Linked DNA regions of Homo sapiens: regions 1 and 2 are each linked to region 3. Evidence: fine-mapped expression QTL. A gene starts in region 3. Each other region holds a variant in brackets. All regions are shown on one strand. Distances are from middle to middle.

Evidence for each region. PIP is the estimated chance that this variant, and not a neighbour inherited with it, causes the effect. A credible set is the group of variants that fine-mapping cannot tell apart.
Region 1: its variant is the best candidate, but not a certain one, in a credible set for the expression of UBAP2 in whole blood (INTERVAL, PIP 0.90).
Region 2: its variant is the best candidate, but not a certain one, in a credible set for the expression of UBAP2 in whole blood (INTERVAL, PIP 0.85).

What each region holds. Positions count from the first base shown.
Region 1 is chr9:33,777,581-33,780,344 of GRCh38, reverse strand. All of the region lies in intron 3 of UBE2R2-AS1 (UBE2R2 antisense RNA 1), which reads left to right. It also overlaps a transcript of PRSS3 not described here. Among named protein-coding and RNA genes, the nearest start is that of PRSS3, 17 kb to the left of the region's middle. RefSeq lists an enhancer at 1,203-1,262. The variant A/T (reference allele first, on the strand shown) is at 1,647.
Region 2 is chr9:33,820,487-33,823,250 of GRCh38, reverse strand. The region is part of intron 1 of UBE2R2 (ubiquitin conjugating enzyme E2 R2); the gene reads right to left. Among named protein-coding and RNA genes, the nearest start is that of UBE2R2-AS1, 3.0 kb to the right of the region's middle. The variant G/A (reference allele first, on the strand shown) is at 1,091.
Region 3 is chr9:34,047,589-34,050,352 of GRCh38, reverse strand. UBAP2 (ubiquitin associated protein 2) reads left to right here and starts at 1,466. Exons shown (of 29, transcript NM_001370062.2): 1 at 1,466-1,528. It also overlaps the pseudogene RN7SKP114. RefSeq lists enhancers at 1-643, 834-1,363, 644-1,499, 1,500-2,356 and silencers at 1,394-1,483, 1,634-1,683.

The DNA of each region.
Region 1 (2,764 bases), 270 kb after region 3:
AGGATTTTATTTCTCCTTCATTTATGAAGTTTAATTTGACAGGATATAACATTTTTAGTTAAATTTTTTTCAGGATGCTGAAAATAGTCTCCCAATCTCTTCTGGCGTATAAGTTTTCTGCTGAGAAGTCTGTGGCTAGCCTGATGGGGTTTCCTCTGTATGTGACTTGACCCTTCACTCTAGCTGCCTTTAGAATTTTTTTTTCTTTTACCTTGACCTTGGTGAATCTGACGACTATGTGTCTTGGGGATAGTTGTCTTATATAGTAACTAGCCAGGGTTCTCTGTATTTCTTGGAATTGAATTTCAACCTCTCTGGCAAGATTAGGCAATTTTTTTGGTGTTTTTCAAATACATTTTTGAAATTGCTTACTCTTTCTCCTCCTATTTCAGGAATGCCAATGAGTCATAGATTTTATATCTTTACATAATCCTATATTTGTTAGAGGTTTTTTTTTTTTTTTTTTTTTTTTTTTTTAGACAGAGTCTCGCTCTGTCACCCAGGCTGGAGTGCAGTGGCGCTATCTCGGCTCACCGCAAGCTCCACCTCCCAGGTTCACGCCATTCTCCTGCCTCAGCCTCCCGAGTAGCTGGGATTATAGGTACCTGCCACCATGCCCGGCTAGTTTTTTTATATTTTTAGTAGAGACGGGGTTTCACCATGTTAGCCAGGATGGTCTCGATCTCCTGAACTCGTGATCTGCCGGCCTCGGCCTCCCAGACTGCTGGGATTACAGGCGTGAGCCACCGCGCCCAGCCAGTTTTGTTCATTTTTTAAATTCTTTTGTCTTAATTTTCATCTAAGTTGATTCAAAGAACTGATCTTCAAGCTCTGAGATTCTTTCCTCAGCTTGGTCTGTTCTGCTGTTAATTAATAATTTACAGCAGAATTTACAGCAGAATTGCATTATTAAATTCTAGTAGTAAATTTTTGAGCTCTAGAAGTTTATTCTGATTCTCAAAATGGCTATTTCATCTTTCAGTTCTTGGATCATTTTACCGGGTTACTTGGATTCCTTGGATTGAGTTTCAAATTTCTTCTGAATCTCAATGAGCTTCCTTTCTATCCAGATTCTGAATTTTGTGTTTGTCATTTCAGCTATTTCAGACTGGTTAAGAACCATTTCTAGGGAGCTAGTGATCCATTTGGATGTAAGGGGATGCTGTGGTTTTTTGAATTGCCAGAGTTCTTGTGCTGATTCTTTCTCATCTGATAGGGTTGGTGTTCCTTTAACTGCGGGGTAAGTTGAGTATGGTCAGTTGGATTCATTTCTGGATGCTTTCAGAGGGCCAGGGCTCTGTACAGAATCCGCATATGTGGGTGAATTCTTGCACCTGGTTTCACATCTTGCATATATAATTAGCATGATAATTTTAGTGTGGTAGTTTGTGCCGTGATCCAGTAGATGGCGCTTAAGAGTAATGGCCGATAGCTAGGCTAACACCCAGCTTGTGTGGCTCTTGTACTTTCTTGTTCACAGGCATGCTCTGAGGTGGGTGGGGGAGAGAGATGGCCCCCTCACAAGGTTTGCTCCTAGGACTTGTGGGGAATCACCTCCAATCCCTGGCACTGCACCTGCATTTCTTTTGTTAGGTGTTCCAGGCTGCAGGGGACTCCTGAGGCAGAGGCTGCAACAATCCATGGAC[A/T]TGATTTATACTTCTATATTTTAAAACTGTCTTTCATTTCCTTTAGCAACTATTTTTATTTTTCTGTATACAAGTCTTGCATGCCTTTTGCTAAATTTAAATATTTTGTTTTTAATATAAATTTAGGTTTTAAAATTGAATTATCCAATTGTTTACCATTAGTATACAAAATATAATTTTTATATGTTGTAATAATAAATTAAGGTATGCACTTATTAATTTGAGTAGTTAATGTATAGTTTTTTAAATATTTGGATGTAAGTAGTCCTTTCATCTCTGAAAAAGGTTTTCCTTATCCTTTGATCTTCAGCTTTTTAGTATTTTTCTTGTCTTTATGCATCAGTACAATATGGAATAGAAGTGGTTAAGAGTGAACATTATTGACTTCTTTATGATCTTGAACATGTTTAGTATTTAAGAAATAAAAATGGGAAGACGTTTAATATTTCTCTCATTAAGTGTGACATAAGCTGTTGGTTTCTTTCAGGTGCCTTTATTAGATTGAAGAAGTCCCTTTTTTCAACCTAATTTTCTGAGTGTTTTTATCATAAATGAGTTTGGGATTTTACCAAATTTTTTCTATCTGTAGGTATAATCAAATAGATTTTTTAAAATGTGTTAATAAGATGAGTTACATTGATTGATTTTTTTAATGTTAGACCAAACTGGCTCCTAGAATAGACTCTATTTAAATATTTGAATAATATTTTTGGATTCTGTTTTGATTTTTATTTATTGGCTTTTTGCTATACCTCTTTAATATTTTCAGGGCTATTCTGGAAAATAAAGAATGATACATTTAAAACTATTTGTCTACTTACTGTATTGTAGAAGTTTACTTAAAATATAAGAAATTTGCAACTAATAGATGTTTTTCCTACTCCCGTCCTTTAAGTTTTAGTGTCATTCTGTATTACATATATTTTATATATCCTATAATACAATGATGAAGTTTTTACTTTAACTAGTCTTACTTTTTTTTTTTTTTTTTGAGACGCAGTCTCGCTCTGTCGCCCAGGGTGGAGTGCAGTAGCGCGATCTCGGCTCACTGCAAGCTCCGCCTCCCGGGTTCACGCCATTTTCCTGCCTCAGCCTCCCGAGTAGAGTAGCTGGGACTA
Region 2 (2,764 bases), 230 kb after region 3:
GCCTGGACAACATAGCGAGACTCTGTCTCTAAAATAATAATAATAGGCTGGGCACACTGGCTCACATCTGTAATCCCAGCACTTTGGGAGGCCAAGGTGGGCAGATCACTTGAGGCCAGGAGTTCAAGACCAGCCTGGCCAACATGGCAAAACCCCATCTCTACTAAAAATTACAAAAATTAGCCAGGCATGGTGGTGCACGCCTGTAATCCCAGCTACTTGGGAGGCTGAGGCACGAGAACTGCTTGAACACAGGAGGTAAAGGTTGCAGTGAGCCGAAATCACACCACTGCAGTCCAGCCTGAGCAACAGAGCGAGACTCAGCTAAAAAAAAAAAAAAAAAATTAATAAGAAGAAGAAAAAGAAAAAAAAGAAATAAAATATCTAAATGACATTGCCAGATCTAGGCTAAGTCTGGTTTGTTTTTTTAGGGGGAAGAGGGAAGGCAGAAAATAGATTCATTCATTGCAAAACAAATGAAGCATAGGAAATAATGCATATTCTCTTATTAAAAAAAAAATTATTTGGCTGGGTGTGGTAGCTCACATCTGTAACACCAGCACTTTGGGAGGCCAAGGTGGGAGGATTGTTTGAAGCCAGGAGTTCGAGACCAGCCTGGCCTATGAGACCCTTTCTGCATAAACAATTTTTTTTTTAAATTAAAACGAGTGTGGTATGCACCTGCAGTCCCAGCTACTCAGGAGGGTGAGGCAAGAGGATCCCTTGAGCCCAAGTGTTTCAGGCTGCAGTGAGCTATGATCACACCACTGCACTCCAGCCTGGGCAACAAAGTGAGACCCTATCTCTTAAAAAAAAAAAAAAAAGGTTTTGAAGAGTTTCTTTAATGTAAGTCAGTGTAGGCCAGGTGTGGTGGCTCAGGCCTGTAATCCCAGCACTTTGGGAGGCTGAGGTGAGCGGGATCACCTGAGGTCAGGAGTTTGAGACCAGCCTAACCAACATGGAGAAACCTCGTCTCTACCAAAAATACAGAATTAGCTGGGCATGGTGGCGCATGCCTGTAATCCCAGCTACTCAGGAGGCTGAGGCAGAAGAATCGCTTGAACCCAGGAGGCGGAGGTTGCAGTGAGCC[G/A]AGATCGCTCCACTGCACTCCAGCCTGGGCAATAAGAGCAAAACTCAGTCTCAAAAAAAAAAAATATATATATATATATGTCAGTGTTGAGTCTAATAAAGATGTTCCTAATAAGGAAAACTTTAAGTATACAACAAATACTTTCTAAATTATCAGACTGGAGTTTTCTAAAAATGGAACACATCTATATTTCATTACCTCAATCAAATTATTTAATAAAATCAAAACTATAAAAGGTTGGCCAGGAGTGGTGGCTCAGGCCTCTAATTAGGATTACATTTTGGGAGGCTGAGATGGGCAGATCACTTAAGGTCAGGGGTTCAAGACCAGCCTGGCCAACATGGTGAAACCCTGTCTCTACTAAAAATACAAAAAGAATTAGCCAGGTTTCATGGCGCACGCCGGTAATCCCAGCTACTCGGGAGGCTGAGGCAAGAGAATCGCTTGAACCCAGGAGGCAGAGGTTGCAGTGAGCTGAGATCGTGCCACTGCACTCCAGCCTGGCAAAAGAGTGAGACTCCATCTCAAAAAAAAAAAAAATTTTTTTTTGTTATGCATATCATAAAAGAGGCACTCTTTCTGGCTCTAGACTCACTGCTATAATGCTTTAGATAAATAATGCAAAAGTTCCAAGGAGGTTCAGTACTAAAGCACCCACACTAAGCTACAATCCTTAGCAGGAGTTATTTGAAAAGATAGTTCCAGCCGGGCATGGTGGCTGACGCCTGTAAAACCAGCACTTTGGGTGGCTGAGAAAGGAGGATCCTTTGAACCCAGGAGTTTGAGACCAGCCTGGACAAAATAGTGAGACCCTACCTCACTTAACAATACTGAAGAAAAAAAAATTAGCCGGGCGTAGTCATGCCTGTAGTCCCAGCTACTCAGGGGGCTGAGGTGGGAGGACTGCTTGAGCCTAGGATGTGGAAGCTGCAGTGAGCCATGATCACACCACTGTACCCCAAACTAAGTGACAGAGAAAGACCCTGAAAAAGTTCCTTTCAAAAGAAAGGGGGTGAACTTGTTAAAAGTCTTCATTAGCTACTGACTTGATCCACAATTTATTTTTCTAGTAACAATAAAATTCCGACTTGCTTAGGTAGCAAAATAAGAAACTACACAAAAAGATAGTAAGGCCAAAAAAGATTGTATAGTATTCAGAATGGACAGAAGAAACTATCTTTGCCCATCCTACATCTATATGGCCCAAAACTAAGAATCACGTGGATTGGCGATATTAAATAAGCGAAAGCAGGATGAATAAAAAAATTCTGTGAAATACAGGTCTCACAAATCTCCAATGCAGATCCTGTGGGTAAGAGACAAGAGCCAACTATTTCAGGGTGAAAAAGATCAGTTAGAAACCTATTAATATATAAAAGTTAAAGGAATTACAGTATGAAAAATGTAAAGAATGACTGGCAGTCCCACTGCCTTCACGAATGACTATGCCAAAAAGGGAAAAGAGTTTAACTTGAAAATAAATTATACTAAATGTTCAAGGACTAACATTTAATAAGGGAGAAGAGTGATATGGTAGGGAAAGCTTTGTGCCAACTTTCAACTGCAGCTGTAGTGAAATACACTAAAAGCCTTGTCTTAAGACAAAAGCAGTAAAATAAAAACAATGGTTTTAAACATATCCCCAGTGTCAACTGCTCATGACCATAAATTTGC
Region 3 (2,764 bases):
AGCAGGCATTTTACATAATCTCATTTAATTTTCACAAGCCGGTGAAGTGTTATTACAGAGGAAAGCTCCAATTGAGATAAGGCATGCCGGGACTGCAAAGTCCTTGTATGTAACTAGCTTGGGATAAAACAGGCCAGTAAGTAGACCTTGAGAGCTTGTTTAGAGGACCTTGAGAGCTTGTTAACACGGGCGTGCAGCTACTCCTATATCCTTGACTTGTCCTCTTCTATGGGGGATGCTCCTCCTTTTCGACCGAATATGCAGCTTCGGGAGGGACGCACATGGAGAGGTGCGGGAGGAAGGGGCCACCCGCCTAGACAGCCAGATCAGCCGAATCAGCCCTGGCGATCTATGGGGTGACAAGATAGCCAGAACGCCCTCACATCCAAACAGGCCAGTAAATGGAAAATACTTTAAAACACCATGCTACAATTATAAACCATCATCTTATTTATTCGTAATTCTTGGAGTTGACAACAGGTCAGATCCTATTGAGAGGAGGTCATTAATTTTCTAAAGACAGAAAACCTGGGTCTCTTCGGTCAACAAACAACTCTAAGGTTCTTTTTTTAAATCCTTAAATAGGGAAAATCCTGGACTCAAGGAGTTGATTATATGATATAACAGAAATAAACGGCTGACTTGGAGTAGGCGTTCAGTAGATTCTAGTCTTTTCACCCAGAAGGGGCTTGGGAGGGCAAAAGTAAAACCGCACTGAAAAAGACTAAAAGTGGGCGCACCTTCCGCCTTGCCGAGGCTCTCGCTGCTAGCCGTTGGCGTTTTCCCGCGCAGGGGGCAGGGCGCAGAGCGAGCCCAGGAACGTGGGAGCGGAACCCCACCCCCCGCCAGGACTACACCTCCCAGCAGGCACCACGCTCCGCCACATGGCGGGCGGCATCCAATGGTATTAGTCCTTCAAGCCAGCTTAGTCCGCTTTCCGTCCCGGCCTTCCCTCGGCTCTAAGGTCTCTAGGGGGTTCGTCTAGAAGCCCGCTGGAGAAAGGCTGCGGTAGGGGTCGCCTTGGCTGTGCAGCATGTTGGGAGTCGTGGTCCCCTCGTGCAACATTTGGGAGGCCAGGCTTGCCCTGAGTGGTTGGACCACATCACGTGATGAGCACAGGGCGGCCACAGGGGAGTAACCTGTGGTGCTTTGTGAGGTCATCACGGCGCGACGACGAGCTGCAGTTGTGGGCACCTTGTATGCGGTGGGTAATACTCTCCTGATGACTCCGAGTACAATACATATTATCAAGTCTCCCTTATTTGTTCCTTTCTGTGGTCCCCACCTCCACGCGGTTGGCTTCGCGGGGTTGGGGTGGAGGTGGTGGCTGGAAGAGGCCGCGCGCCGCCTAGGCTGACTCTGAAGCCGCGCACGAGCGACGTGTTGTGGCTCCTCCTTCGCCCGTGACGCGAGGTCACGTGACGGGTTGGGCAGCCTGTGCCGCCGCCGCCGCTTTGTAAGAGGCACATTGGCAGGTAACGAGCGGCGGCGGCGGCAGCGGGTCTTGGGTCCTCCGAGAGCAGCAGCGGTAATTGCCATCCTCTCCCTCTCCTTCCCTCTTCCAGGGCCCTGAGCGCTGCAGCGTGTGCTTTCTAATTCTGGGTTCAGCTCGTCTGAAACCCCACCGCCTGCAGACTGCCCCGGCGCCCACCCGTGAGGACCGGGCCGAGCTTCACTCGCCAGGTCCACGGTCCCTCTACGTCCAGGCCCGGGCTCCCTCCTTCCTCTTCCCCTCACGTTGCCCTGTGCTTCTTCCTACTTTCCCCCGTCCAGGTCGGCTGGGCCCCACCCAGCCCCAGGGGTGCCTCCCCTCCCCCCTTTCGGGTTTCTGCCCTGGAGGGTGTGGTTTTCTCTCCCACCTCGGTGCCTGCCAGTAGACTGGAGCTTCCCCGCCACGCTGTCGGTCCCATCTCATCACCTTTCCGCTTTCACGCCCGTAGCTAGTCTTGGGACTGGCCCTGTTATAGCCCCAACTTATGCGCTCTCTAACCTTTCCTGGCTTACCCGGAGTCACAGTTCAGTTCTACTTCTTTTCAATTCTGTAGGGCATTGGTCTCAATTGGGACTCAGTTTTCCTCCACACCCGCCGTTCCTGTAGTCTGGTTATATCACAGTTCATTATTTAATGTAGGTTTTTGAGCGCTTTGTAAACGGCAAAGCTCTCTCTGTTAATAATACATACTCAAAATGTTATTCTTTCATTGGTGCATTACAACTCAGTTGTTTGCCTCTGAATCACTTTCCCACTCGGCTTTTCCACATTTTCCCCTGAGTTTTTAGTCTAATTAGTTGCCCACGCATCTCAACTGTCACCACTCTGGTCTCTAATGCTTGCTCGCTTTAGGGGTTGATCCCATCATTATTACTGTTATTTCCTGTTTGATGTAATCCAGTCATTTACTACCACTTCTATTGGATATTGTTTTTACCTCACATTCAAGGAAGGTATATGGTTTGCCAGTATTTAGGCTTATTGTCTTTCTACAGCACCAGTGTATCCTAACAGTTGAGAGATTTTAAAAAATTACTATTAATTTTAGAGATATGGTCTCCATATGTTGCCCAGGCTGGCCTCCAGCTCCTGGGTTTAAGCGATTCTTTCACCTCAGCCTCCTGAGTATCTGGGATTACAGTGTGCACCACGGTGCTCAGCTAGTTGAGGGTTTTTTCAGGTCTCCATAAGGTATCCAAAGATTATCTTTTATTTGAAGGGCATATAATTTCTTGGGTGAACCCAGTTCTTATATTCCTCTTCCGTTGTGAC